Homo sapiens: one gene and its partners. The protein of the gene in region 2 interacts with the protein of the main gene of each other region in a pairwise test. Each region holds a gene or a part of one and is shown on either strand. Other genes may lie near its edges.

Evidence for each region.
Region 1: the proteins of BAG3 (region 2) and TRIB3 interact in binary tests that used the Homo sapiens proteins (3 or more experiments, as listed by UniProt).
Region 3: the proteins of BAG3 (region 2) and GLIS3 interact in binary tests that used the Homo sapiens proteins (3 or more experiments, as listed by UniProt).
Region 4: the proteins of BAG3 (region 2) and PLEKHB1 interact in binary tests that used the Homo sapiens proteins (3 or more experiments, as listed by UniProt).

The regions. Positions count from the first base shown.
Region 1 is NC_000020.11:376,040-383,759, reverse strand, and holds the start of TRIB3 (tribbles homolog 3), read right to left. Parts: upstream 3,001-7,720; 5' UTR 2,591-3,000; intron 2,466-2,590; exon of another isoform or gene 2,260-2,465; intron 1,328-2,259; exon of another isoform or gene 1,215-1,327; coding exon of another isoform or gene 1,134-1,214; intron 1-1,133. UniProt on the Homo sapiens protein: Inactive protein kinase which acts as a regulator of the integrated stress response (ISR), a process for adaptation to various stress. Inhibits the transcriptional activity of DDIT3/CHOP and is involved in DDIT3/CHOP-dependent cell death during ER stress.
Region 2 is NC_000010.11:119,646,763-119,654,385, reverse strand, and holds the start of BAG3 (BAG family molecular chaperone regulator 3), read right to left. Parts: upstream 3,007-7,623; 5' UTR 2,711-3,006; coding exon 2,531-2,710; intron 1-2,530. UniProt on the Homo sapiens protein: Co-chaperone and adapter protein that connects different classes of molecular chaperones including heat shock proteins 70 (HSP70s), e.g. HSPA1A/HSP70 or HSPA8/HSC70, and small heat shock proteins (sHSPs), e.g. HSPB8.
Region 3 is NC_000009.12:4,283,058-4,290,076, forward strand, and holds part of GLIS3 (zinc finger protein GLIS3), read right to left. Parts: intron 3,467-7,019; 5' UTR 3,369-3,466; coding exon 2,981-3,368; intron 1-2,980. UniProt on the Homo sapiens protein: Acts both as a repressor and an activator of transcription. Binds to the consensus sequence 5'-GACCACCCAC-3'.
Region 4 is NC_000011.10:73,641,724-73,649,583, reverse strand, and holds the start of PLEKHB1 (pleckstrin homology domain-containing family B member 1), read right to left. Parts: upstream 3,004-7,860; 5' UTR 2,976-3,003; coding exon 2,958-2,975; intron 1,931-2,957; exon of another isoform or gene 1,846-1,930; intron 1,382-1,845; exon of another isoform or gene 1,306-1,381; intron 672-1,305; exon of another isoform or gene 573-671; coding exon 497-572; intron 1-496.

The DNA of each region.
Region 1 (7,720 bases), on a different chromosome or scaffold from region 2:
CAATATCAAAATGAAAAACAGGCTGGGTGCAGTGCTTCATGCCTGTAATCCCAGTACTTTGGGAGGCTGAAGCAGGAAGATCACTTGAGCCCAGGAGTTCAAGACCAGCCTAGGCAACGTAGCGAGACCCTGTCCCTAAGAAAAAAAAAATTATCTGGTCATGATGGCACACAGCTGTAGTCCCAGCCATGCAGGAGGTTGAAGTAGGGGAATCACTTGAGCCCAGAAGGTAAAGGCTTCAGTGAGCCATGGTCAGGAACTCTAGCCTGTGCAACAAAGTGAGACTGTCTCAAAACAAAGCAAAACAAAACAAAACAAAAACAACGATGAAAAGCGTGTGAGCTTTGATTCAGCAATTAATCCCATTGCTAAGAATTTATTCTGTAGAGGTGTGTGTGTGTAAGCATGCAAATACACAGTTATTCCTGCAGCCCTTTTGACAGAAATAATTGGCTGTCTATAATTACAGGGCTGGTTACATAAATTATACTTCATCCACACAACGGAACAATGTGCAGCCATTTAAAAGGTTGAGGATGCTCTTTATAGGGTAATTGGAAGGATCTCCAGAGTGAACTGTTAAGTGAAAGGAAAGCCACCATTCACGCAGCTGTGTGACTGTGTGTGTGGTGGCTGAAGGAGAGGGCAGTAGGGCATGGTCAGGGCAGACGGGTTCTCTCTAGAACCCATCTGCCCACCCACTTAAACTCCATTCCAAGGAGGTGCATGCCCAGGTATGGGCATTGGTGCGAGAGACCTCAGCCTGGTTAAAGACCTTCCCAACAGTTCAAGGCAGGATTAACAAGGCAACATGAGTCAGTTACCAGACAGAGGCCCACCTCTCCAAGTACGCTGCTCCCAAATGGAAGAGCTGCCTTGGAAGGGAAGGCCTCCCCACATGAGTGAAAGGTCATGACTTTGGCTTGGTAAGAATGCAGTAAGGAGTGGCTGTAGTCAGATATTCCTGGGTTCTAATCCTGTCTCAAACCCTTTCTAGCTGGGGGGTACCCCTGGTCAAGTTCCTCAAGCTTTCTGAGCCTCAGTTCCTGTAAAGTGGGAACAGGATGCAAAGCTTACAGGTTTTTCGTGATGATGAAATGAAAACACAAATGAAGCATGTAGAGCTTATGGACCTGTTGCCAGGTAGGTGTCAGGAAATGGTCATTATTAGCACTCATCCTGTTATTCTTCACAGCAAGATGCATAAGTACCATCCTTGGGAGTCTTAGAAAGCTCCCCAGGTTCGAGGCTGGGATGACACTCCTTACATCTCAAGGCTGTTCTGAGTCACGCAGGATGATACCTGGCTGTGCACATGCTTTGTGCCCTGTGCAGCAGGAGACTGCCTGGAGTCCCTCTGGCCTGTGCCACATCAGTAGTCCAGGCTGCCTTGGCCCCGGCCATCCCTCAGAGCCTGTTGGGGCCTGGGATAAGCTCCACCCAGATGGGGACAGATGCGGTAACTGAGTCTATACATCTTGGGCAAGGCATTTTGCAGACCACACTGCAGAATAGAATCTGTGATGTGGAATGAAAGCAGCCCCTAATATCTACCTCTTGCTGTTCCCTGCCACACTCGGGACCCAGGGAAATGAGGGCGGGTTACATCAAGCGCAAGCGCGCGCGCGCACGCACACACACACACACACACACACACACAGCCCTCCCAGCTGTCACACCCATGGTCTACCCGAGCAAGGCCGCACCCCCACCCCGCCCCGCCCCCCGCAGCCAGGCCCCTCCCGTGGGAGCCCAAGCGAAAGGCGGCGGGTGTCCGAGTCAGAAGTTTCAGCGGAAATTGAAGCGCGGCCCTGGGACAGGAGGGGGGTGAGGCAGAGGGAAGGAGGTGGCTGTCGTCCCCCGCCCTCCCCGGTCTGCAGGCACAGCACACACCGCAGACACGCGCGCACCGTCCACCTGCAAACCCGGAGCCGCGCACTGGGGAGAACCAGCGGCCCTGCCGGGCCAGAGATCGCGCGCTGCGCCCCCGCTCCCACTCCCTCGGCTCCCCCGCTCCAGGGCACCCCAGCCCTGTCCCGGCGGTGTCCCCTGCACCGCCAACCCCTGCCACCAAGTGCCCAGCCCTCCAGACAGCTCTCACCATCTCCTGAGACACAGGTGCTCGGGACCCACCCTCACCCAGGACTCTCCCCTGCGGGTTCACGAGGACCCCCTCGGATCCCCCGCCACCCCCAGAGTCCTCCAGTGCCCCCCACAAGCCCCTCACCGCACCACACGACTCCCCTATCCCGCACTCACGCAAAACAGACCCCCGCACGCCCTCCTCTAGGGGTGACGGCCGGACACCTCCGTCCCTGGCTTCCCCAGCCCAACTCGGGCGACCCCACGCTCCGCGGGGCCGCGTCACCTGAAGCCCGGGGGGAGCACTCAGCCCAGGCCCGGATCAAAAGGGATCTGACCTGGCCGCGCCCCGACGGCGGGGTCTGTGAAAAGGTGTGTAAGGGGCGTGCGTGCGTGTAACACGCGGCAACACGCAGACGCCCAGAGGCTTCCGGCGCCCCCTTCCCCGGCCGCCCCCTCCCGCCCCCCGGCCTCCGGGCGAGTCCGCAGGCCGCACCCCGCCGAGTACCTCGCCCCGTCGTTCCGCGTGGGCCCGGGCGCCGCCGGGGCTCAGAGCCTCCAGGGCACCAGCAGGTGGGCCGGCCCGCTGCGCTGCTGCCGAGCTCGGGATCCCAGCCCAGCTCCAGCCCTGCCCGGGTCCTAGCAGCGGACGCGCGCGGAGCCGCCTCCACTTCCGCTGCGAGTCTCGTGCGCGCCCGGCCCCCGGTCCGGGTGATGCAAACCGGAGCTAATCCCCCGGTCCGGGTGATGCAAACCGGAGCTAATCCCCCGGTCCGGGTGATGCAAACCGGAGCTAATCAGCCGCCGTCTGATGCCCTCGGGCCCGGGATCGCACCATCCCCCGCGCCGCGCCCGGGCCTCTCTCCTCTGCATCCGCTGCACCTGGGACCCGCCCTCGCTGGCCCCCTAGGGGCGTCTGGTCAGTGCAGACATCAGCCACGGACTCTCCCTATCACCTTGGAAAAAAAATTTGCTCTTTTTTTTTTTTTTTTTGAGACAGAGTCTTGCTCTGTCGCCCAGGCTGGAGGGCGGTGGCGCGATCTCGGCTCACTGCAAGCTCCGCCTCCCGGGTTCACGCCATTCTCCTGCCTCAGCCTCCCGAGTAGCTGGGACTACAGGCGCCCGCACCACGCCCGGCTAATTTTTTGTATTTTTAGTAGAGACGGGGTTTCACCTTGTTAGCCAGGATGGTCTCGATCTCCTGACCTCGTGATCCACCCGCCTCGGCCTCCCAAAGTGCTGGGATTACAGGCGTGAGCCACCGCGCCCGGCCAAAAATTTGCTCTTCTGAGCCTCGGTTTCCCCACCTATGAAATGGGAAGAACATTCCTCCTTCTCAGGATGGTGCTTAAAAGAGCAAACAGTGACTGTTGTCGGGGTGCTTCCCCTTTTTTATAAAGCACATTCCCAGCACTGCCTTATAAAACCTTTAGGAGAAGTGGACATGCGGGAATCTCCATTCTCCACATTCTACTGAGAGCCAGCCTGAGGCCCAGCTATGGGCAAGTGGTTCAGAAGCTTCAGGAAGGCCTATGGACTTAAGAGCTGACTCTGGGCTCAAAGGAACCACCGTGGCGCCCTTGGGAGGCCTAAGGTCTGCTGAGCTTCCCCGCGTCCCTTTGCTAGAGGCAGTGCGGCCTAGTGGTGAAGAGCCCCTAGAGCCAGCTGGCCTAAGAGTGCACTCCACCTCCGCTCCAACCCACAGTGCTACCCCAGAAAAGCTACCTAAAACCCTGCCTCAACTTCCTGCTCCATAAAATGGGCTCATAATTGCGCTCACTTCATAAAGTTGTTGTGAGGATTAAATAATTTAATATGTGTAAGACGCTTAGAACAGTGTGTGGCACATTGCGGATGCTCAGTGGAGTGTAAACAATGGAGACAGAGAGGGAAAGAGGCCTTTAATATGCTTGCACCCAAGGCCTGGGAGGGCTTGGTGCTACTTGATTTGGGGTGAAACACCCCTCTGCGTCCTAGGCGTCCAGCACCTTTCTTTTTTTTTCTTTTTTTGAGGCAGAGTTTCACTCGTTGCCCAGGATTGAGTGCGATGGCACGATCTCGGCTCACTGCAACCTCCACCTCCCGGGTTCAAGCGATTCTCCTGCCTCAGCCTCCCAAGTAGCTGGGATTACAGGCATGCGCTACTATGCCTGGCTAATTTTGTATTTTTAGTAGAGACAGGGTTTCTCCATGTTGGTCAGGCTGGTCTCGAACTCCTGACCTCAGATAATCCACCTGCCTCGGCCTCCCAAAGTGCTGAGATTACAGGCATGAGCCACCGCGCCCGGCCTGGGTCCAGCACCTTTCTTAGAAATCCCTTTTGATCTGAATTCACCAGTGTCAAAAAATAACTCCTCAGCTGGGTGAGCTGGCTCATGTCTGTAATCCTAGCACTTTGGGAGGCCAAGACGGGAGGATTGCTTGAGGCCAGGAGTTTGAGAACAGCCTGGATGACATAGTAAGACCCTGTCTTTACAAAGAGAAAAAGATAGCGGGCATGGTGGTACGAGCTTGTGGTCCCAGCTACTTAGGAAGCTGAGGTAGGAGGATCACTTGAGCCCAGGAGTTCAGGTTACAGTGAAACGTGATTGTGCCACTGCACTCCAGGTTGGGTGACAGAGTGAGATCCTGTGTAATAAATAAATAAGTAAGTAAGTAAAATAACTCCTCTAGAGGCTGGGCGTGGTGGCTTATGCCTGTAATCCCAGCACTTTGGGAGGCTGAGGCAGGTGGATCACGAGGTCGGGAGATCAAGACCATCCTGGCTAACACGGTGAAACCCGTTTCTACTAAAAGTACAAAAAATTACTAAAAATACAAAAAACACACCTGTAGTCCCAGCTACTCGGGAGGCTGAGGCAGGAGAATCGCTTGAACCCAGGAGGCAGGAGTTGCAATGAGCTGAGATTGCGCCATTGCACTCCAGCCTGGGCGACAGAGCAAGACTCCGTCTCAAAAAAAAAAAAAAAGTAAAATAAAATAAAATAACTCCTCTAGGCAGAGGCTGGATGGGAGGCAGGGTGGAGTCATATTTGTTTTCCTGTTTCCAAATCCCTGGGGACCAGCTCACCTGTGTCCCAGAGCCTTCAGGGTATACCAGGGCATTCTGGGATCTCATTTAATCCTGGCAACTCCCCTGCTGGGGAGGGGTGAATAAACTCATCCTCTATCCTGGGACACCGAAATGGTTAGGAAGATCCCACAGCTGTGAGGGGTGAAGAAAGGTGGGAGGGCTGTTTCCTGAGCACCCCTCTGAAGGTGTGCTGGGTTTGCTTGTACATTCCCAACTAACGTTGTTTTGTGCTGTGTCAGCCCCTGTTCTAAATGCTGGGGACTCAGCAGTGACCAGAATGATCCACCCCTGCTCTTACAAATCTTATAAATCAGTGGAGAGATAGACCATTATCAGGAAAATAAAATTAAAACCATGATCATTTAAAATAGATTGCATCATGCATTTTCTTGAATAAAATAGGAAAGACTTGTTCTCCGTCATGACTGAGGGTGGCCATTTTCAGCAGGGCTTATCAGAAAGGTGATGTTTAAACTAAAAGCTGAGGGAAGAGAAGGGGTGAAGAGTGCAAAGATGTGAAAGGGAGACAGAGAAAAACAGTAAGTCACCTCCATTCTGCAGACAAGAAGAGTTAAGGTAAGGGACCTACCCAAGACCACCCAGCTGGTCGTATAAGACTGATTTCAGGCTGGGCGCGGTGGCTCACGCCTGTAATCCCAACACTTTGGGAGGCTGAGGCAGGCGGATCACCTGAAGTCAGGAGATGGAGACCAGCCTGGCTAAGGTGGTGAAACCCGGTTTCTGCTAAGAATACAAAAATTTAGCCGGGCGTGATGGCATGTACCTGTAATCCCAGCTACTCGGGAGGCTGAGACAGGAGAATCGCTTGAACCCAGGAGGCGGAGGTTGCAGTGAGCCAATTGCGCCACTGCATTCCAGCTTGGGCAACAAGAGTGAAACTGCATCTCAAAAAAAAAAAAAAAACAAAAAGACTGATTTCAGATTTGAACTTGGGGCAGCTGACTCCAGTGCCCATGCCATCCTGGGATATTTCACGAGCTTTGTATCCCTGCAGCCTCCACATGGACCTATGGGTATCGTGACAGGAACGGCACCCTGGGTATGGCCCCCAAATTTTGGTGACTTGTCACAGCTGGGTTTGTCAAATCCCAATTCTCTAGACCATTCTGTGTTCCAATAGAAATATAATGTGAGGCTGGGCGCAGTGGCTCATGCCTGTAATCCCAGCACTTTGGGAGGCGGAGGTGGGTGGATCATGAGGTCAGAAGATCAAGATCGTCCTGGCTAACACAGTGAAACCCTGTCTCTACTAAAAATACAAAAATTTGCCGGGCATGGTGGCACACACCTGTAATCCCAGCTACTCGGGATGTTGAGGCAGGAGAATCACTTGACCCCGGGAGGCGGAGGTTGCAGTGAGCCGAGATCATGACACTGCACTCTGACCTGGGCGACAGAGTGAGACTCCATCTCAAAAAAAAAAAAAAAAATTAAAATATTCAATAAAATAAAAAATTCTCAGTCACACTAGCCACATTAGCCATACTTGAAGTGCTCAATAACCACATGTGGCAAATGGCTACTGCTATGGTTTAAATGTGTCCCCCAAATGTCATGTGCTGGAAACTTAATCCCCCAATGTGGCAGTACTGAGCGGTTGGGACTTTTAAGAAGTGATTGGATCATGAAGCCTCTGCCCTTATGAATGGACTAACCCACTCATGGATTAATGGATTTGTGGGTTTTCACAGGAGGAGAACTGGTGGCTTTATAAGAAGAGGAAGAGAGACCAAAGCATAGCATGTCAGCATGCCCAGTCCCCTCTCCACGCTATACCCTGTGCCACCTCCAGACACTTCAGAGACCAGGAATAAGGCCCTCACCAGAAGTGCCCCCTCAATCTTGGACTTCCTATCCTCCATAGCTGTAAGGAATAAATTCCTTTTCTTTCAAAATTGTTCAGTTTCAGACATTCTGTTATAAGCAACAGAAAACAGACTAAAACCACTACCATATTGAGCACTACCACCCTGTACCAAGAATTCCTAACACATGGTCCAGGGGTACAGCAGAGGCAAAGAGTCTAGGTAGGCTGGAGTTTGGCTCCTAGATCTACACCAGAAACACCAAATAGCCTCAAGCCTCAGTTTCTGCATCTATAAAATGCAGTTAATTATACCTCCCTTGCATTGCAGTCATAAGGATTCAATGCATTGGGACTGCCTCATGTCATAGTTGTATCACATTTCTTGGGTTCAAAACCACATCTATTTTGGAAAAGTTACTTCAGCTCTTTGTACTTCAGTTTCCCCATCTGTAAAATGGGGATAACAATAGTTCCTACCTCGTTGGTTTGCATGAGAATTAAATGACAATATTTGTAAAGTGACTGGAATATAAATGCTATATAAGCATTTATTTAGAAGCGAGGAAAAGAATGGTGACCAACCTCCCAAAATTAAATGCAGAAATGTACTCTTTTCTGGAGAGAGAGTCAGGCTTTTATGAATTTCTTTCTCCAGGCTCAGAACATCTTTCTACTCAGATTTCTGAGCCCAGAAGGCTGCTTTTCTCTTTCCTATAGGTTTGGTTTTTTGTTTGTTT
Region 2 (7,623 bases):
GTCCTCCCCCAAAAGAGAGGTCGTCTCTTGAGCTCCTCATGCTCAATGAACAGCTTTTTACTGATTGACAGCATTTCCTCTTGAAGATGATGATGCTCAGACGGGCCTCAGCTCAGCTCCTCCAAAATCGCCCTTTGTTTTCTGCAAGGGCCTTTTTCTCATTATGCATTGAGAAGCCAATTTCAAATACAAAATGATATTCAAGGATTTTCCACTACATTTAGTCTCCAGTAAGGTGTAACTCACACAAGTGCAACCTGATATTGTGTGTGTCAAAGCACAGGATTGAAAGCAATGAAGCACAAACAGCTCATGGGCTGAATGTTAGTTTTCTCCTTAAGTTTTGGTGCCATGCTGACAAGTCTCAAGTCATTCACTTGGTAAAGGGAACTCTTTTCTTGAGTTCATCAGTCCCATCATCAAAATCCAAGCAACCTCAGCACAGAGGTCAGTGACCCAATAACTTGGTGGCCAGGAGGGCACAAAAATAATCAAGTATTCTAGCCTGCATGCCTCAGTTTCCCAAAACACTCACTTCCAACTTCTGAAGAGACACACTGCCTCTTATTAGGACTTTCCTGACACTAGTTCTCTCCCTGTTGTTGGTACTAGCTGGATGACCTTCAAAGTCACACCTGAACTCTCTGGGTTTCAGAAAATAAAGAAGCCTAACATAAGAGATCTTCAAGGACATTTCAACTTTAAAATTTTGACCGTGAAATTTTCAAATAAATCTTCCCAGCATCAGACTTCTGATTTAGTAGTTCTTTGTATTTGCTGACAAGAATAATGGTAACTAAACCTGCTTTTTTTCTTTTAATAAGGTTTATGAAATCACAGCCTAACCCATGCACCAGGTGGGTACAGGAAGATCTCAACTTGCTGGGTAAGTTTCATGCTGAGAACAAAGTGCTGGGAATGTTTATGTTCAAACTTGATCTTCACTCACAACAAAGGCTGCCAACAGATACCACTATCCCTATGTCTACAGGAAGAAGGCTTCAAAATAATAGTTGTAAACCACACTAAAGATCATGTACATCCACGCAGACTCCTAAGAAAGGTGGTTTGAAATGAGTGTCAGTTTCACCCAAAAATGGGTGGAACAGACACACAAAAAGGTATATGTAACTGTGCCCATCCCAGCTAATTACAGCCTCTTGTACTAATTTTCAAGAATAAATATACAACTAATCTCTCGTAAATGTAAACTGCTGCCTGTACACGGTCTCACTGCTGGGCACCGGAGTTTTATCAATATTGTTAAAACAAAAAGTGCATAAAGATGAAGGGAAATAATACAGGTCTTTCTTCTAAAACAATGGGTTACACAGCAGTTTTAATTTGGTGAGTTTTTAAATCTTCAAAATAATTTACCAGCTCTTTGCTGCTTTTATCTTGCCCAGACGGCGTTAACAATTCAGCTTTAAGTATAACATATTTATTTTAAAAACTTTTTATCCTGAAAGCTCAAATTTATAAAAAATTGAAAGAATAGTATAACTAACTCTGATTTTTGAAAATTAACACACTCATTCCAAATTTACATTTTCAAATTTCATGCTCTTGGGGATTAAGAAGTATATATCCTTGCATGTATGTAAATGAGACATACTTCTGCTGTATTCACAAGAGTATCATTAGTCAGTTATTTGTGTACTGGTAACAAATCCTAAGTATTTTAATACCATAACAAGGCAGGAAGCGAATGCCATTATAAATATACACGTATCATTCTCTTTCTCTCCAGTGTGAGGCAATGTGGTAAGGCAATGGCCAACTGTAAGACAGTCTCAGATCTCTAGTCTAGATCTCTAGAAACTGCTGGGGAGAAGCACACCCTGTTTTTTATTTTACAAATCATACTAGGATACGTTCATATTGAAAGCACTTTCAAACAATAATACAATTTTAATTTAAAATACACACACACACATATATATATGAATGTTTTGACACCAGCCTCCAGAGTCATTGGGTGCCTAACATGGGACAGTAGCCAAGATACCCCTCAACCAAGTTGGAGAACTTGAGCGGTAAAATTCCCCCCAAAACCACCATCCAAGCTTGCGAGTGTCCCCCTCGAGTCCGCGGTCAGCAGGGTGCGCCGCGGGTCCCGGGCCCGGAGGCCGAGCGGGCAGCAGGGGCCACGGTGGGCCGGGGCCTCCGGAGCTGACCAGGCCGGCCGCCCCTCTCCCAGCCCTAGAGCGCGAGGCCAGCGCTGGACACCCGGCCTTCCGCCCTGGAGTCGAGCCGTGGACGGCACCGGAGCCACTGCGGGGTCGCTTCCCGGGCCACCGAATCCCGGGGCCTCCTTTCGCCCCGACGCCTGTCAAGGGCGGGTCCGGAGCGGGGACTCGTCCGGGCGCAGCGGGAGTGTGTGGCGGGGCGCGGAGCCGGTGTCCGCCCGCGAGGGGCCTTCGCCGACCCCCGGGCCCCGCCGCCTCGCGTCCCCCCGGCCCAGCCCACTCCCCGCCGCCTGCCGTCGAGGTGGCGCCACCGACCAGGGCGGGCCGCGGGCCCGGCTCACCTTGGGGCCCTCAGAGGGCACGCGCGGGTCGTTCCACGTAGTGGTGCGGCTGTTGTGGTCCACGAAGAAGGGCCAGCCGGTCTGCGGGTCGATCTTGATCTCCCATCCGGGGGGCAAAGGGTCGCGGTCACCGTTGCCGGACGCCACCTGCATCATGGGCGAGTGGGTGGCGGCGCTCATGCTGGGTTGGGGTCTGCCCGCTGGGGCGCGGGTGCGGGGCGCTGGCTCCGGGCGCCGAGTCTCTGGCCGGGCCGCCGCCGTGGGCCCCTCTCCGCCGCCGACGTGTCCGGGAAGCCGGCGCCGGGCACCTTTATGAATTAAAGGCGGGGGTGACGTGGCCAGAGAGGGGTGGAAGTGTCTGGAAATAGCCTCCTCGCTGCCAGAGGGGAAGGAGGAGATAAAGGGAGGTAGCAACTGGCCGGCTAGAAACTTCTGGTCCAGTCCAGAGAAGTTGGCCGCGGCCCGGGGTTGGATGCGGAGCTCCGCCCTGAGTCATCGGCTATAATCGCGGCGGGCGGGGCAGAGGAGCGGGGGCGGGGCCTCGGCCCGCTCGCCCCTCCCCCACCTCCTCCCGCCCCTCCCCCTTCCGACTCGTGCGCGTGCCCGGGCCGGAGTCGCCGCGGGCGGGCGCGGGCGCGGCTTCGGGGTCCGCCTGCGGGTGGGAAGCCGGACGAGCTGGACTGGGGCCGTCCTCCGTGCGCCCCGGGCGGGTTTCGGCTTTCATAGTCGCTCTCTCCCTCTCCTTTGCGCCGAGTGAGTGTTCCCGGGGCCGGAGCCCGTGCTCCCCGTGCCTGCCGCCCGTCCTTCCTGTACAAACAAAACCATCTCGCCCACCTCCACCCCCTCCCCCATATATGATAGCCGAGGACCCTGAGGGCTGTCCGGGAGGAGCGCGGGGACTCTCATCTGACACCGGAAGGAAGCCAGGGAGAAAATGGAAGTCAGTGCAAACTCACCTGCCTTCCTTTGGAAACTTCAAGAAAAAAAGAGATTGTATCAACTGATGGCTTTTAGTCTCCTAGACTAAAAAGAAAGTTTCGTTGCAGCTTTAAAGATAAATCACATTTTCTTGGGTCTGGATCTTTTTTATGGTAGAGATTGGTTCTTGCTATCTTATATCTTGACCCTGATTTGGGAAGTAAAGACCGAATAACCATGACATTTTTTGTTTGGTTTATTCAATTGCACTTGTAACCTGTCAAAGGAGAAAATTACAACACATTTAAAGATCTTTTTTGTTGTTGTTGTTGTTGATTTTCATTTTTTAACTTTTATTGTTAAAGATCTTATTTGTGATTCTAGAAATTGGGCAACATCTCCATTAAATTAGAATAAGTGCTCCCATGAGCTGAGCAGAAGAGGTTGGTTTTATAGACAGAGAAGGGCTGAAGAAAGCAGAAACAAAGAACCAAGACTGGATTGGTTGTTTCAAAATTACTTTCCTTGTAAGGAGGGGACAGAGAGACAGAATCATAGAAAAATAACTGATGAGGGCTTGCCACCATGGCTCATGCCTATAATGCCAGCACTTTGGAAAGTCAAGACTGGAGGACCTCTTGAGTCCAGGAGTTTGAGACCAGCCTGGACAACACAGTAAGACCCCCATCTCTGCATAAACAAAAAATAAGCCAGGTGCAGTGGCTTATGCCTGTAGTCCCAGCTACTCAGGAGGCTGAGGTGGGAGGCTCATTTGAGCCCAGGAGTTTGAAGCTGCCATGAGCTATGATTTTGCTCTTCATGCCAACCTAAGCGACAGAGCAAGACCCTATCTCTTTAAAAGAAAGAGAGAGAAAGAAAGAGAGAAATGATTGAGAGAAATGTAACATCAGGTTACATACTTCAGATTACTGTACAGTTGACCCTTAACATGGGTTTGAATTGAGCAGGTCCACTTGTACATGGATTTTTTTTCAATAAAAGTTACACCGATGTGCTTGCCTCTCCAGTCTCCCCTTCCACCTCCTCCACCTCTTCTGTCTCTGCCACCCCTTGACAGGAGAATCAACCCTTCCTCTTCCTTCCCCTCCTCAGCCTCCACGTGAAGATAATGAGGATGATGACGTTTATGATGATCACGTCCACTAAATGAGTAGTAAGTGTACTACTCTTCCTTATGTAAATGTAAAATCTCTTCCTTATGATTTTCTTAACATGTTCTTTTCTCTAGCTTACTTTATTGCACGAATACATATAATACATATACAACATATGTGTTAATTGACTGTTCATGTTATTGGCAAGGCTTTCCGTCAAGAGTAGGCTATTGGTAGTTTTGGGAGATTCAAAGTATGCAGGGGCGGGGCATGGTGGCTCACGCCTGTAATCCCAGCACTTTGGGAGGCCAAGCGGCGGATCACTTGAGATCAGAAATTTGAGACCAGCCTGGCCAACATGGTGAAACCCCAACTCTACTAAAAATACAAAAATTAGCTGGACGTGTGGCACATGCCTGTAATCCAGCTACTCGGGAGGCCGAGGCAGAACTGCTTGAACCCAGGAGGCGGAGGTTGCAGTGAGCCAAGATCATGCCACTGCACTCCAGCCTGGGCGACAGAGCCAGACTCCAGTTCAAAAACAAACAAACAAAAAAGTATGCAGGGATTTTCTTTTTTCCTTTCTTTTCTTATTTTATTTATTTTATTTATTTATTTTTTTGAGACAGGTTCTTGCTCTCTCTCCCAGACTGGAGTGCAGTGGGGCAATCTCAGCTCACTGTAACCTCTGCCTCCTGGGTTCAAGCGATTGTCCTGCCTCAGCCTCTTGAGTAGCTGGGATTACAGGTGTGCACCACCATGCCTGGCTAATTTTTGTATTTTTAGTAGAGACAGGGTTTTGCCATGTTGGCCAGGCTGGTCTCAAACTCCTGGTCTCAAGTGATCCACTCGTCTCCGTCTCCCAAAGTGCTGGGATTACAAGCATGAGCCACCTCGCCCAGCTTTGCAGGGATTTTCGACTGCACGGAGTTGGTGCCCCCAGCCACCTCCTGTCACTCCCCAACCCTCACCCCTCATTCGAAAGTAGCCTGTTTGGGAAATTAGACTATCACCTCTCCTGATTTCTCAGAAAGTCAGATAACAACTTGGTTTTGGTTTGGTGATGTGGAACTTTAGCATGAGTGACTCCTTTCTGATTTTTCGTCGGGTTTGTTAAGGCCAAATGCAGGAGCTTAGTCCAAAACAGTGACCTCTTATAACTTTTATTTAACAAACGTCAATGAGCACCCCAATTCCCCTGGGAAAGAGAGACTGTGTTCCAGAAAGAGAGAATGTTTGGGAGGTGACATTTTAGATCTTTAGACATACTGACTCATTCCCTTCCCCAGAAACGCTTTGAACTAATATTGGGCCTAGTTTTCAATTCGGAATCAGAGAATATCCTCGAACCCCAGTCAATACCTCTGCCCCTTCCTGCCCTCAGCTTACTCCTTCTGGAGAAAATGCCAGAGAGGCCTGCCTATCATTTCCAATGGAATGATTCTCACTTGTAAAAGTATGCTTATCCGCTTTGGAGTCCAGTAACTCCAGTGATGATCAGGCCCCAGGGACTGATGCAGGTCACCAAACATGTTAGAGACAGGTGTATAAACCCGAATGTCAGTGCACTAGTTTCCCATAGGAAATATTACTGTTGAAGGAACTAGACCCCCAAATTCACTAGTCAGTGTCTGCCTTATGCTTCCTTATGTCTGCAGCCCTGAACCCAGAGTCCATATTCAATAAATGTTGATGTTTATCGAAGATTGAATCCAGAGTGAAATTTTATTTCTATCTTCTTCCTTGCTCAATTTGCTTTCCACTACAGTTTAAGTAACTACAGTTTAAATAAACACAGAGGCTGGGTGTGGTGGTTCATGCCTGTAATCCCAGCACTTTGGGAGGCAGAGGTGGGGGGGATCACTTGAGGTCAGGAGTTTGAGACCAGCCTGGCCAACATAGTGAAACCCCGTCTCTACTAAAAATACAAAAATTAGTCGGGCATGATGGTGGGTGCCTGTAATCCCAGGTACTTGGGAGGCTGAGGCAGGAGAATCGCTGGAACCCGGGGAGCGGAGTTTGCAGTGAGCTGAGATCACGCCACTGCACTTCAGCCTGCGCAACAGAGGAAGACTCTGTCTCAATAAACAAACAAATACTGAAAGTGGTGTTGGCCATTTTTCCCCTGAAAGAAGCAGCAGGGAGGAAGCAGGTTACTCTGGGATTAACATAGCTGCTTCTGACAGTTGCTCTGGAGGCTAAAGCAGCTCCATCCTGGATGCTCATCTGCCATGTTCGTTTCTGATGAACCCGTTCCAGGAATGCCTCTAAGATTTCTATTTTCACATACTTACCCTTCGGTCAAAATAACGTTGGTGTTACTGTAAACACATACTTACTATAAATCCTGCCTGTGGCGAATTCCCTGTGGTATACAAGCCCTGGGACTTCAGGGTAACAGTGCAGGGACCCGCCATCTTGTCTTGCAGCCATCCAGGACATGGCTTGTGTTTGTAAGTCCCTATTAAGTGTTTCTCTCTGAGAAACTGGATTTGTCCACCTCTTTCTTCAGCTTCTCAGTTTCCTCAGCCTTTGAGGGTAGGTGTGCATAGACCTGCTCACCGCAGAAGAGTTATCCTCCGCTAGGGACTTCCGCAGGGTTTGTCTAAAACAGAGACACAAGTCTTGGAGAGCTGGCTGGAAGAAGCTGCTTTGAGCCACGTTGAATACTGAGCATCATGTCTGTCCTCGGTGGCTTTTTCTTTTCTCCAGGCCCTCAGACACTCCCTCTTTAGGCCTCCTGGAGTTCATCTGCCCAGATCAGAAGCTTAAGCATAACCCTAAATTTCTTTTGCCCCTCACCATTTAATTATCCTTTTTTTTTGAGACTTGCTCTGTCACCCAGGCTGGAGTGCAGTGGCGTGATCTCGGCTCACTGCAACTTCCGCCTCCCTGGCTCAGGCGATTCTCCTGCCTCAGCCTACCGAGTAGCTGGGATTATAGGCACCCGCCACCATGCCCAGCTAATTTTTGTATTTTTAGTAGAGACAGGGTTTCACCATGTTGGCCAGGCTGGTCTTGAACTCTTGACCTCAGGTGATCCTCCTGCCTTGGCCTCCC
Region 3 (7,019 bases), on a different chromosome or scaffold from region 2:
ACCCCCTCCATGCAAATATATGCGTGCACACACAAACACATACACACACACACACACACACACAGGAATGCACTTTGCAGGATTGCAAAGCTAGCTCTTTACCTTCCAAGTATCTGCCTATATAGCACAGGCCAGGAACCCTTCTATGTGGCCATATCATTCTGAGTGTATCCCTACCGGAGTCCTTACTGTGCTGTTTTTTTGTTTTTTTGTTTTTTTTTTTTTTGAGATAGAGTCTTGCTTTCTTGCCCCGGCTGGAGTGCAATGGCGCAATCTCTGCTCACTGCAATCTCTGCCTCCCAGGCTCAAGCAATTCTCCTGCCTCAGCCTCCCGAGTAGCTGGGATTACAGGCGCCCACCACCACACCCGGCTCATTTTTGTATTTTTAGCAGAGGCGGCGTTTCACCATCTTGGCCAGGCTGGCTTCAAACTCCTGACCTCAAATGATCTGCCTGCCTTGGCCTCCCAAACTGCTGGGATTACAAGCGTGAGCCATCGCACCCCACCTACTGTGCTGTAGTTTAACTGCCCACTTGTTTGTATGAATTATCCAACTCCTTGAGGGAAAGGACTATGCTTTATTGGCTATTGCATCTCCAGAACAGTGGCTCACCCATAATATATGCTCAATAATTATTTGTAGAGTAAATGATCAAAGTTCAAATAATCCTAGATCACCATCCTCAACCAGTTATTGGCTTAGTATAGGAATTGTCAACCAAAATCTGGAAGAAACGATACATTCAGCCACTTCTTGCACCATCTAGACCACTGATGGTATCTAAGCTCCAAAGCTAGAGGTGATAATAATACAGCTGTCCTCTACCCCTCATTTGTGCCTATGCATGTGCCAACCATGCAGATCCAGGAGGAGCACTGTAAGCTAGGAAGCTGAGCAAGGAAACAAAAAGCCACAGGGAAGAGAATCAAGAAGCAGCACTACTTCTGACAGGCATTTCAAGGTGTATCAACCCTGAGAATTCACTAGCACCTGAGGTTTTTTAAGAAAACATGGCTTTAATTACAGCCACTGCTGACCGCCATCAAAGTTAGTATTCCCAAGCTCCTTACTGGCTGGTGCCTCTGAAGTTACTTACTCTTTCTAGACCTTAGTTCCCTTATCAGTTAAATAACCATAGCATACAACTCAGTGCTGTTTGAGGAATAACTGAGACTACGTATTGGAAAGCACTTAACACGGTGCCTGACATATGCTGAGTTATGATACAATAAAGGCAAGTTATTAATATTATCACCATTATTAGTGTCAGTCAGGATTGCAAACACAAGTACATATAAAAGCAAGCTACGGTTCACTAGTCAAGCATGCGCTAAAAGGCTTTATCGGGCCTCAACCCCTGAAAATCTGAACACCTAAATTTAACAGGAGGGAACTTAACTTGCCACATCATGGACATAGCAACCTGACAATGAGCAACCTATTTTGGATGTAGCCCCAGGGAAACTTTCTCCTATACTTATGCTAAATATCAGTACCTCTAAGAAATAAAATGACTCAAAACTAATCTAGACCAAAAAAAAAGAAGAAGAAGAAAAATAAATAAATTAAGGCCTGGCACGGTGGCTCACGCCTGTAACGCTAGCACTTTGGGAGGCCAAGGCAGGCAGATCACTTGAGCTCAGGAGTTGGAGACCAGCCTGAGCAACATAACGAAATCCTGTCTCAAAAAAAAAAAAAGAAAAAAAAAATTAGCCAGGCGTTGTGGCACGCACCTGTGGTCCCAGCTACTTGGGGGACTGAAGCAGGAGGATCACTTGAACCCAGGAGGATGAGGCTGCAGTGAGACCAAGATCATGCCACTGTACTCCAGCCTGGGTGACAAAGTGATACCCCGTCTCAAAAAATTTTCTAATTTAAAAGGCACATGTATGTTTAGTGCTATTTTTTTTTTAAACCTGCCCATTTATACCAATTTATCCAAACACAGAAATACACAGACTCTAAAACAACTTTTTGGCTACTTGACTGATAGAAATCATTATTCACCTTAATTAACTGAATGACTGGCTATTCTGAAGGTTGCTAGTAATTCTATTTGCTGGTGTAAGCATTTTTAACATAAACATTTAAGACGGAATGCTAAAAATACCTTAAGGAATATATAATTGTGCTATTTTATACAGCAAAGCTATATTTTACGTGGGGTGCATGCTCTTTCTCTAAATACATACGTCATCTACAATATAACCTCATTAATTCAACATCAATTTCTAATGTGTCGCTCAAATAACTTGCTATTCACCAACAATTATTCTTTAATTTAAAATATATGGTAATTAAAACACTAATGAATTAAAAGCACATTCTCTCTATACTTCAAATTGACCAGGTTTTCTAGTTCTCCGCAAGCACAAAATACATCTTTTCATTATTCCCTTCTAGCTTGCTTCCCTCTTGCTACTAGCTATATGATAAAAATTACAGGCTTTGCTCTTAATTTTTCTTATTTATATTTATTGATTCCTCATTTTATTGGTTATTAAAATTTCCCTTTTTTATTCTTTTCCTTCCAAACACCACCTTTCTTCTACACTATACTTTTAGCACTGGCATAAGGACAGTTCCAGTCGGTCTTCTTGTCCATGGCCTGGAGAATTCAGCCCCCAGGGAAACAGGGCAGCGCTACCTGTATCCGGAGGGCATGATCTTGCTAACCTAGCTCTTACCCTTCCACCACAACCACTCAGCCTGCCTCCCTATTTTTTATCTTTCTATCTTACTGTTACTCTGTTTCACAGTCCCAGGAGATGTCTCATACTCAGCATTTACCACTGTGGTCCCCTCCAACACATACACACCCATTCCCTTACTGAGCAAGCTATATATCATTATGAGACCATCATCTTTGACCCTGACACTGAATCATGTATTTTTCCATAGGATTTGCTGGCAGAAAATGGGATGGGGGAGAAAAAAATCGTTTCCATTTTTAAAAGGTTCCAGAAAGACAATCCTACCTTTCCCAGGATTTGGAGGAAAAGGGCTTCCAAACTCCTGCTGCTTTGGCTTTAAAGTATGTGACCCTGACATGCCTCCAGCCTGGGTGACCTGGAATCGCGGCTTCCCATTGGTGAGCATTTGTCTCCTGGGGCTTAAGGCAGGCAGATGGATGCGGCTCTCAGCCACGTTGTTCTGAGGAGCCATCCCTCCTCCTGAGGGCATCTTGAGATGGAGGTTGTTAGCAAGGCTTGCCATAGTGGGACTCGATGTGCTGCCACAGGGCGAGGGGCCAGGAGTCCCGGAGTGGGCTCGGATGGCAGGAATGTGATGACCACTGACCATCCTAGGCCCCTGTGGGGTTCCCGATGTCCGGTGGAGACTCATGCTGCATGATCTTCCATTCATTCTGAAAAACCTGTGGCCAAGACGGTCAAATATCCAATGTCACTAATGACTCCTTTCAGGCAAAGTCCAATAAGTTATCCATGGTGTGGGTTATAAGCCTGTTTAAAAAAATAAACGCAGGCATTTTTAAAAGCAAAAATGAAAATAAGATACAGTGAGTTTTTCAACCTGTGTATCATTCATAAGGAAGAAAAGCAGCACTCTTAGCAAGATGGCCTTTTATGTAGAAAAGGGTCCTCAAATACACGGCTCATTGGCAGGCACTCTCCCCTTCTGCACTCATGGTGGACATGGATTATGGATCACTGCATTGTTTTGTTTGCCACTGAGCCCTTCTCAATACAGTGCTCTCGGCAACTACAACAATCTACTGGTGCCAGCTTGCAAAACAAAACTTATTTTGTTCCCTAGAGGATCTGTCCATACTAGTTCACTTTTGCTACAGTGGGTCTTGGGAAACCCAAAAGCACCACCTACCTGAGCTGTGAGACCAATGCTTCAAAGTTCCAGTAAACAACCACAAAGCAGACATGGCTTCTAAATGAGACTATGGGGACACTAAACCATCTCTGATTTTCACTTTAAGAGCTATCTTGTCACAGTCCCTAGATTCGAAAAAGATGAACACCTAGGCCTGGGAATACCATAAAATTTTTATATATCCACATATTCATATATTCAAATATTCATGGCAGCATTAGAGTCTTGGTTCCATAATGATCCTGAGTTATGGGGATGGGAAGAGAATCAACAACAGGATACTGCAACCTTCCACTAAAATCCTAGAAAAGAGAAGGGCTGTGCAAAACGCCTTACAGGGAGCATAAGGAGAGAACGTCCCTTCTAAAAGTGACCTGTCCAGTATGTACATGATACATGACATTCAGTAAATCTACCATAGTTCCATAAAGCTTCCTAACATTAAGGAAGCAGAACAAGAACCAAGAGAAGCACTGACATGATCGCAGGACGTCATCACCCACCCACGTGATGATGCCGGGTTGTAAATCACTAAAGAAGGCCCCTCCTTCCCTTGACCAATAGCTCCCCAAAATGTATGCGATGAGGTGGTAAAGTGCCATGGTTGTGCCACTATGCCAAATGTATTATAGACACTGTCACAATCTGTCTTTCAGAGATGACAGTCATGGAAAGAAGCCAAAGTTCAACAAACACAGGAAATAAGGACTGAGTACAAAGCAGGAGTGACCAGATATCCTCAAGTGGATGATTCCTAATTTTTGTGTATGATCCACTCAAAGTGTTGAACAAACATTTTTCAACTCAACTTCCAAATAAAGGACTCCATAAATAATCGAGAAAAGGCTATCAAGGAGAAACACTTTTTGTGAAGAGTTTATTTTTCATTTTTAGAAAATCAAAAATATCTAATTTTAACTCAAGCACTCACTATGCCTTCTGCAAAGTTTGCTGTGTGTGCCTATCTTGAGGAAATTCAAAAGTAATTAACAATATAAAATGTAGAATGTTTTCTTAATTCTTACTAATTCTCTATTTTCACTAAGAATGCCATCAGTTTGTGACATTTAATACTATCATGCCATCTAGTTCCGGAAAACACTCAGCCACATTCCTCTAAGTCAGGTCTCACTCCTGCCCTCTTCTCCCATGAGTACGAAGCAGGAGTGACCAGATAACCTCAGTTCTTACATTGGTAAAATTCCAATGCTTTTTATGGTACATTTATGTAGGAGAACTCCTGTGTGTCACCAGCCAGTCTGTAAATCCATTCATTGGTAGATCATGAGCAACAGTCACTTAATGTCTCTGTACTTTGCCAGATAAAATTGGCCATCTATTTTCCTCTCATTGATAAAATAGTGTTTTCTGAGCACTCTGAACCCTGCAGAAGAAAGCACGTATTCAGCAGCAACCCACCCCCCGCCAAAAAAAGGCAAAAGAAATATGTCACATTGGCAACTTTTTTAAAATAAAGAATTGTTCAACATGACTGGAAATATGAGTCACTAAGACCATGGTCCAAGTGACAAGTGTCTGCAGATTTTCAGACTGTGCCCATTTCCAGGTTTTTAAAAATAAAGGAGTCATTTTTTTTGGCAGCAAGATCATATACGAGCAGGAATTCTCATCAAAAAATCTGGATAAAAACACATAAGGAGGTACTTAGCACGATCATTAAAAAGGTGAGTTTGCAAGAAGGAAAAATAATTAGAGCACTGACAACTTAATTAAGTATCAGGCATTCACATCTGCCTGTCTTGGAATGAATATTTATTTTATTTTATTTTTTTTATAAACTACACTCCCGTTTTAAATAGTTTTAGGTTGAAAGTAAAAACAACAAAAAGTATACTTAAATTTTATTACTAAGAAAGCAACAGCCAGAAAGTAAAGTGATTAATACCATAACGAAAAAACCAATAGGCCAATGGCATGTAAGCTGAGCAAAACCAGCCTCAAGACAAAAATAAAAGAAACTAAACATGAAAATATGGCGAATATTCCAGTTTTCACATTAATTACGCCAACAGATTTCTCAAACATTAGATATTAGAATGTAAAAATAAATTTCATCTATTTATATGATAATATTTTCTATACTTTTTAGCTAGGCCATATGATGAAGATATAATCCTAAGTCTCCTTGGTAACAAAAAAAGGGATAAAATGCTATTATAACTTTTAAGAAAGACCCTCATAGAGTGTGAATGAAATGGCACTCAAAAAGTCAAGATACCCAAGTTCTACTTCTGACAAATCATTTATAACTTTTCTGGACTTACAGTTTTTCATCCATAAAAAGTTCAGGAATTTGGATCTATTCATTACGGCCTCTTGAAATTCTGTAACTCCAGGTAATTTAGAAAAGAAAGACTATCAAGAACACCCATTTGCTATAATCAAGAATAAATATGTAGATTTTATACCTATGGCATTTAAATCTGGACGGTAGACATGGAAGCAAAAAATAATAGCATTCTCTACCACCCCCATCAAAGTGCGAGCTGATAGAAAAAGGCTTGCCCATCAGCGATGTGTTGTCTATGGGCAATACTAACCATGAACAACAAATTTCAACATTGCATTTACACTTTGCCAAAAAGGTAAAATCACAACTAATCACTGTCAAAAACTTAACTGACAGGATTCCATCGGAAGAGCACCTTTCTAGTTAAAAATCCAATCACATTATTCTAGTCAGCATTTTCTCCTCTGTTCTCCATCGAACTACTCTACCCCAGGCTACCAGTAACAAAAACAAAAGAAACAAGAAAAAGAAAAAGCAAGGAACATCCAGAGGTATAAATTAGGATATTTTGGATCTGACATTGTGGCATAGCTAGAGTTTTATACTACATTGGTTCCTACAATGAAAATGTTCATTCTGCTAATATGAGTCAGCATGAAAGTTAATAAATCTTTCCTTTTGACCACTTTCAAACTCTTTGAACACACTTCTGTAAATCAGGTCAGAGAGGAAATTACTTAACCCTAAGGAAACTAAGGCACAAAACCATTTAGTAATTCCACTAGTTTTTCTGAAAATGCGTGACTTTAATCAAAATATAAAATCATGACTCTACCTTCTACCCAAGGCTCCAGGCACTGCTCATCATGGATTAAAAGATTAAACAAACGAAAAGCAATGTTAACTCATCCATTCCAGAA
Region 4 (7,860 bases), on a different chromosome or scaffold from region 2:
CAAAGGCATTTTTCACTTTGTTCTGTGCCTCGTTCTGTGTCCAGCCCGGGGTTGGGGGACTGTGGACACACAGAGGGTCAAACCCAGCCCCTGTCCTTGAGGAGTTCGCAGACTGGGGCCAGTCTGGGGTCAGGGAGTGGGGATACCCACAGATAGACAGTTCTGTTCTAAGGAGATCACTGTAAGGCGCCGTGAAAACCGAGGAGGGAGCCTCTAATCCAGCTTGACGCTACTGCAGGAGCAGGGGTGGGGGCCAGAGGAAAAGCCAGAGAAGGCTCCTCAGAGAGGGGCCCATCTGAGATGGGTCGTGATGAACAAATAGAAGTTTAAACCATGTAGTCGGGAATGGGAAGGACCTTCAGGCAGAGGGAAGAGCATGGACAAACAAGGGAAGGATGAAAAGGTCCTGGTTTCTTGAGAGAAGTGTTCCCCGTGGCAAGCCCAGTAAGCCACTTCCTTCACCCTGCCCCAGGACCAGGGGCCCAGGATCACTCACTCTGTCTCCACAGCCAGCCGCCCCTCACCAGGGCCATTTCTTCAAAAGGACTTTCCAGAGCGGAGTCAGGCGGGACCTGTCAGAGGAGCCACGGGAGACACAGGCCTCAGCAGCAGCTCCCTGGAGAGAAGCCCCCAGCCCTGCCGTCCCTGGGGAGCCACCCAGGAAACGTTTGAGGGAGGGTTAGTAAACAAGGGCCAGGCGGCCTCGGCCTCCTCCCCATTCTCTGCTCAGGAAGAGAATGGGAGCACTGTCACTGTGGGGTCAGCAGGGCAGCCATTGGTGTGGGGTGGGGGTGGGGACCAGGAGCCTGGATTCCAGCCTCAGCTTGGTAACTTTGGCCATATCCCTCCTCCCTGGCCCTCTGTCCTGGTCTCAGTTTCTAGATCTGTAGAAGTGTGTCTGTGAGGCAGGCAGAGGCTGGAGGGAGGAGCTCTTGAAACATTAGAATATGCCTGACTAGCTCAGTCGGTGGAGCATGAGACTCTTAAAGTATTAGAAACCTTGGGATTCTGTAATGTGGAAGTGCAGAATATTAGAATCACGGCAATGGATGAGGGAAAAGCTCCCTCCTATTTGGACCCCACTAGAGCTGTTTACAAAGTGCTTCAAAGAGCAGTTCAACAGCAGCTGTGATGGACCGAGCACTCTGTCCGGGTACCCCCTATCAGTGCTTTCATCCATTATCTCATTTAAGCCTCCCTGCAGTCCTTATTATTCCTATTTCAGAGATGGGGAAACGGGGGCCGGAAAGGTCCAGTCAGTTGCACGGGGCCACTTGATTAGTAAGCAATGGAGCCCAGACTCACACCCAGCAGTCCTGGCTTCAAACCGTTATGCCGGCAGGAGCTTTGAGAACTTCCGATACCAGGCCACACTCCGTAACAATTAAATCAGAATGTCTGAGGGCAGGAGGCAAGCCCTGATACTCTTCAAAGATCCTCAGATGATTCCAATGTACAGCTAAGTTTGGACGTCACCGCACATTCTACTCCCTCACCTTGTCCCCACTCTAACCCTGTTAGGAAGGGAATCCTTACTCCTGTTTTACAGATGGACAAACTGAGGGTTAGCAAATGACTCATCCATGTACATGATGTAGCTTGCACTGGAATCCAGGTAGGTGCCCTCTGTTCCTGAGGGCGACTCACTTGCCAGCGGGTGCCTCCGCCCCTCCCCCACCTGCTCACACCTGTTGCTGCGTAACAAGGGCTGGCACACCTGGGCTGGAAGGCCCAGCCTTGTCTGTTCCTCTTGCCGCTCCCTCCCCTCTCCACGGTCTTGACACAGATCAGACAAGAGGGTCAGGTGCAGACTCCTTTTCCAGCCCCTCCCCTTGATGCACCCACCTTGTCTACACTTGTTGCGGATGTTGCTGCCTAAGCGGCCGCTACTCGATGCTGCTGCCACCCAACCCGCTGCGCCTGCGCTTTGTGTGCCCCGGAGAGCCTGGGGCATTTCTCTCCTCCCGCAGCGCCTGAGAGCCCAGCTGCCCCCGGGCCCCGCCCTCCGGACCTGCCCACCCCAGGGAGGGGGAGTGACGTGAAGAGATGCTGACCCGAGGCGTACTGGGACTTGTAGTCTACCCCTGTAGAGCTGGGCAGAAGCAGCCCCGCCTGCAATTTTACTTTTCTATTAAGACATTTGTTCACTCATTTATCATGAAATACTTTTTCTTAAGAATCATTGAACTCAGTTCCTAGAAAAAAAGAAAAAGTAAAGTTGCAAGGAGAAGCCAAGCTCCTAGTTTTGCATGTTTTTTTGATGCTTCCCCTTTCCATCCCCAGCTTCCAGTCTAGTGAGGGAGATTACATGGAAACACACAATTGGAGCACAAGGTGTGATTTAACAATGGAAAAGATGAGCCTGACTTTTCTCAAGGGGTTCAGGAAGGCTTCCCAGAGGAGGCTGAAAGGGGCCTTGGAGGATGAGGGGCAGTTTCCTAGGCGACCCGAAATTTCCCCTATGAATACTGTCAGGATGTTGAAGAGTGCCCAGCATTTCCGTGTGTCTAGAACATAAAGCGCAGGGGTGGGGAGGGCATCGGGAGTGTCAGGCGATAGAGCTGCAGGGTTTGGAAAGAAATAGCACAGAGGCCTTGCATGACAGGCGGAGAGCTTGGATGTTAGGACGCAGTGACTGGAGCTGGGGGTGGGAGTTTCAAGATGAGGAGTGAGGTGTGTGATTAGGGGGTCGGAAAGGCCCCTCTAGGGCACAGTGAAGAATGGACTGGCGGGAGCCCACCTGGAGAAAGGAAGACTTTCTGTATCTATCACCTCGGACTGTGATCATTTCCTTCAATAGCTCAGCCCCGCAAACCCTCACCTACCAGCAGCCACAGGATGTCATTCAGAGACCAGAGGATGTCAGGGCCTAAAAGACTTCTGTCCCGTCCCCTATGTGGCAAGGGTGCCCACCCTGCCCTGGGCCCTTCCTCCTGTCCCAGAGAACTCTTCCTTACCGGGGCTGCAGGGCTCATGGTTCCTGGGTGGCCAGGGCAGCATTTCCCAGAAGGCTCCCGCAGCGGGGCATTTCCCTGAGCGCCTTAGAGATAAGGGGATCAGGAAGGTGCTACCAAGTGGGAGGCTGGAGGGGGAGGCAAGGAGGGAGCGCACAGATCCCAAGGAAGGTCGCCCTCTTTCTCCAGGCTCCTCCCAGCCTTTCCAACTGATGGCTCTGACCCTAGGTTCACTAGACAAGTCATCCCTGATTCAGAAGTGGTCTTGGCTCAGCATCGCCGAGGTTCCCGGAGTGGAATCGGGGCGAGGTTGCGGGGGCAGGACAGGAACCGGGCTGGTCCTCCTCCCTAGGTTGGGGGCGGGGCTACATCTTCATTCTTTGGCCTGGCAGGACAGCGCCCATCACCCCAGTCCTGGCTGCGCAGTCTGGCTCTTTAAGCCTTCCTCTCTTGCTCCTGAGTCTCTGTAATCCTGACCTCGAGCTACCCTCGCTCCTCGGCCCTTTGTGCGGTGCGTGCCCTGCTGAGGGATTCGCCATGGCCAATCCTATTAACCATTGAGTTCATCCCCTCTTAGCCGACTCAAGAACCAGCTCTCCCATACCGCGTTTTCATCTCTGTGCCTTTAACTCACTCTCTGTCTGGTTCCTGGAACGTCCCAGTCCCAGCTTCTCCTAGCTAAATTTTCCACCTCCACAGTGGAAGGAAGAAAGGAAGCAGTGGGAGGGGGAAAGAGGCAAGGAAAGAGATATGGAAGGAAGGAAAGACAGAAGGAGAAAAGAAGGGAGGGGAAAGACGGGAAGGCAGGTAGGTAGGGCTGCAGCTGGCCTCGGAGGATCTGCGCCTGGGTCCTGCCCCGACCCAGCCTCTCTCCAGCTCTCCCTGCTCCCCTCCCCGATGGGCAGTGGGGCATCCTTCATGTTGAGGGGCGGGGACGGTGCAATCATCTCCTAGATTTCATTCTCTGGATTTAGCAACCAGATGAAAAAGGAAGGTTCTCCAGCAGCAGTGGAGACTTCAGGGGAAGACTCTCCCCTACCTCCCAAAGAGCGGGCACTATGACGAAAAAAAGAGGAAAGGACGTGGCAAACTAAAACCACAGACACTACTACCGAATCTAAACGTAGCCGGACTTGGCCCATGTCTCTAAAAGCTGGTCAGTGACCCTCTTTGAGAAGCCAATAAGGAAGTGTAGACTGTCCTCAGGAAAAAATCTGCGTATAATTCCTGGGAGTTCATAGACCTCTGAAGCCATGATAGTCATGGTTGGATTGTTTTTAATTTCCAGAGCTGTGTAGATGGGAGGAGAGTGTAGATTGACGAGTGAGAGGTATGACAGTATGTCAGGAATTCCAGCCGCAGCAGTCCTGGCTGTGAGAGACTTTGTTTGTTCAATCAACTAAAACTTATTGAGACTAATAAGCCAACAAGTAACTTTTACATTTCTTTGTGGCTATGGTGCACAGAACCATTGGCAGAGAGGAAAAGATTTTGCCATTTCAAGTGTCCCTGGTGAATGAACAGCCCACAGATAATACATTGTTTAGGAAATAGTGGACTGGCTCATCAAATTCAAATTTACTACTTACATTTTCTAGAGAGTATAATATAATGAGAATAATTTATATTATCTTTATTTTAAAAAACTTGAAGTTTATATCAAGATGCAATTTGAGCAAAAGTAAAAGTGCTTATGAAAACATTTTAAATGGCCGGGCGCTGTGGCTCATGCCTGTAATCCCAGCACTTTGGGAGGCCAAGGCGGGCAGATCACCTGAGATCGGGAGTTCGAGACCAGCCTGACCAATATGGAGAAACCCCATCTCTACTAAAAATACAAAATTAGCTGGGTGTGGTGGCACATGCCTGTAATCCCAGCTACTAGGGAGGCTGAGGCGGGAGAATTGCTTGAACCGGGAGGCAGAGATTGTGGTGAGCCGAGATTTCACCACTGCACTCCAACCTGGACAACAAGAGCTAAACTCCGTCTCAAAAAAAAAAAAAAAAAAAAAGAAAAGAAAACACTTTAAAGTGATAATTTTACGCTTTTTTTTGTCTTTTTTTTTTTTTCCTTTTTCTGGAGAACGGGGTCTCGCCATATTGCCCAGGCAGGTCTCGAACTCCTGGGCTCAAGCTATCCTCCCGCCTCTTGCCTCCCTGAGAGCGGGATTACAGGCGTGAGCCACTGCGCCCGGCCAAAGTGATAATTTTAGTGAGATGTAATTCACCTACCATAAAATTCACCCTTTTAAAGTAAAAAATTCAGTGGGTATTTTTTTTTTTTTTTTTGATGGAGTCTTGCCCTGTCACCAGGCTGGAGTGCAGTGGTGTGATCTCGGCTCACTGCAACCTCCGCCTCACAGGTTCAAGTGATTCTCCTGCCTCAGCCTCCCGAGTAGCTAGGACTACAAGCGTGCACCACCATGCCCAGCTAATTTTTGTATTTTTAGAGATGGAGTTTCACCATGTTGGCCAGGATGGTCTCGATCTCTTGAGCTCGTGATCTGCCCGCCTCGGCCTCCCAAAGTGCTGGGATTACAGGTGTGAGCCACCGCACCTGGCCTTCAGAACATTTTTATCACCCTAAAAAGAAACCCTAGGCCAGACATGGTAGTTCACGCCTGTAATTCCAGCACTTTGGGAGGCCAAGGGTGGCGGATCACCTGAGGTCAGGAGTTCGAGACCAGCCTGTCCAACATGGTGAGACCCTGTCTCTACTAAAAATGCAAAAATTAGCTGGGCGTGGTGGCGCGCACCTGTAATCCCAGCTACTCAGGAGGCTGAGGCAGGAGAATCACTTGAACCCGAGAAGCAGAGGTTACAGTGAGCCGAGATCACACCATTGCACTCCAGCCTGGCTACAGAGCGAGTCTCCATCTCAAAAAAAAAAAAAAAAAGAAAAGAAAAGAAACCCTATAGTCTTTAGCAGTTACTCCCAATCTGTCTTCCCCCCAAGTCCCTGGCAAAATTAATCTGCTTTCTTTCTGTACAGATTTGCCTATTCTGGCCATTTCATATAAATGGAATCATGGGCCAGGCGCAGTTGGCTCACACCTATAATCCCAGTGATTTGGGAGGTGAAGGCAGGAGGATCTCTTGAGGCCAGGAGTTTGAGGTTATAGTGAGCTGTTACTGCACTGCTGTACTCCAGACTCAGTGACAGAGTGAGACCTTGTTTCTAAATAAATAAATAGTTTTAAAAAATAAATGGAATCATGCAATGTGTGACCCTTTGTGACTGGCTTCTTTCACTTAGCATAATGTTTTCAAAGTTTATCCAGGTTGTAGCATGTTATCAGTATTTCATTCCTTGTTTTTTGTTTTTGTTTTTGTTTTTGTTTTCAGACAAGGTCTTACTCTGTCACCCAGGCTGGAGTGCAATGGTGCGATCTCACTGTAGCCTCAACCTCTCTGGCTCAAGCAATCCTCCCACCTCAGCCTCCCAAGTAGCTGGGACTACAGGCACATGCTATCACACCTGGCTAATTTTTGTATTTTTGGCAGAGACCGAGTCTCGCTATGTTGCCCAGGCTTGTCTCCATCTCCTAGGCTCAAGCAGCCCTCCTTCCTCAGCTTCCCAAACTGCTAGGATTACAGGCCTGAGCCACTGCGCCTGGCCCATTCCTTCTTACTGATGAATAATATTCTATTTTATGGATATATCGTGTTTTATTTATCTATTCATTGGTTGATAGATATTTGGGTGATTTCTACTCTTTAGCTATTATAATACTGCTGTGAACATTTGTGTACACATTTTTGTGTGGACATATATATGCTTTATTTTCTCTTGGGTGTGAAATTTCTGGGTCATGTGGTAACTCTACGTTTAACATTCTGAGGAACTGTCAAATTATTTTCAAAGTGATTGCACCATTTTACACGCCCATCAACAACCTCTAAGAGTTCCGATATTTCTATGTCCTAGCCAACACTTGTTATTGTCTGTCTTAAGTATTCACTCCTTGTGTTTTTTATTTGCATTACCCTAATGACGAATGATGTTGGTTATCTTGTTTTTTTTTTTTTTGAGACGGAGTCTCGCTCTGTTCAGCCCAGGCTGAAGTGCAGTGGTGCGATCTCAGCTCACTGCAAGCTCCGCCTCCTGGGTTCACGCCATTCTCCTGCCTCAGCCTCCTGAGTAGTTGGGACTACAGGCGCCCGCCATCGCGCCCGGCTAATTTTTTGTATTTTTTAATAGAGATGGGGTTTCACCATGTTAGCCAGGATGGTCTCGAACTCCTAACCTTGTGATCCGCCCACCTCGGCCTCCCAAAGTGCTGGGATTACAGGCGTGAGCCACCGCGCCTGGCAATGTTGGTTATCTTTTCATGTGCTTATTAGACATTTGTATACCTTCTTTGGGGAAATGTTTATTCTAATCTTTTGTCCATTTTTTAATTGGGTTATTTGGCTTTTGTTGTTGAGATGTAAAAAGTTTTTAAAACTAATAAAATATTTTTCTAATTTTTTTTAAGGCTAGGGCGTGGTGGTATGCACCTGTGGTCCCAGCTACGAAGGAGGCTGAGGTGGTAGGATCGCTTGAGCTCAGGAGATGGAATGCACCACTGCACTCCAGCCAGGAAGTGTAATGGTTAGTTTTATGTGTCAACCTGGCTAGGCTATAGTCCCCAGTTACTCAATCTAACACACTAATCTAGGTGTTGCTGTAAAAATATTGTGTAGATTTGGTTGACCTATACAATCATTTGAAGTTAAGTAAAGGAAATTATCTTTGATAATTGGTGGGCCTCACCAATCAGTTGAAGGGTCTAACAAGCAAAACAGGTTTCCCTGAGAAGGAAGAAATTCTGCCTGTGGATTGAACTGTAGCCTCAGCCCCAGCCTGAGAGTTTCCAGCTTGCTCTGCAGATTTTAGACTTGCCAGCCCCCTCAATCATATAAG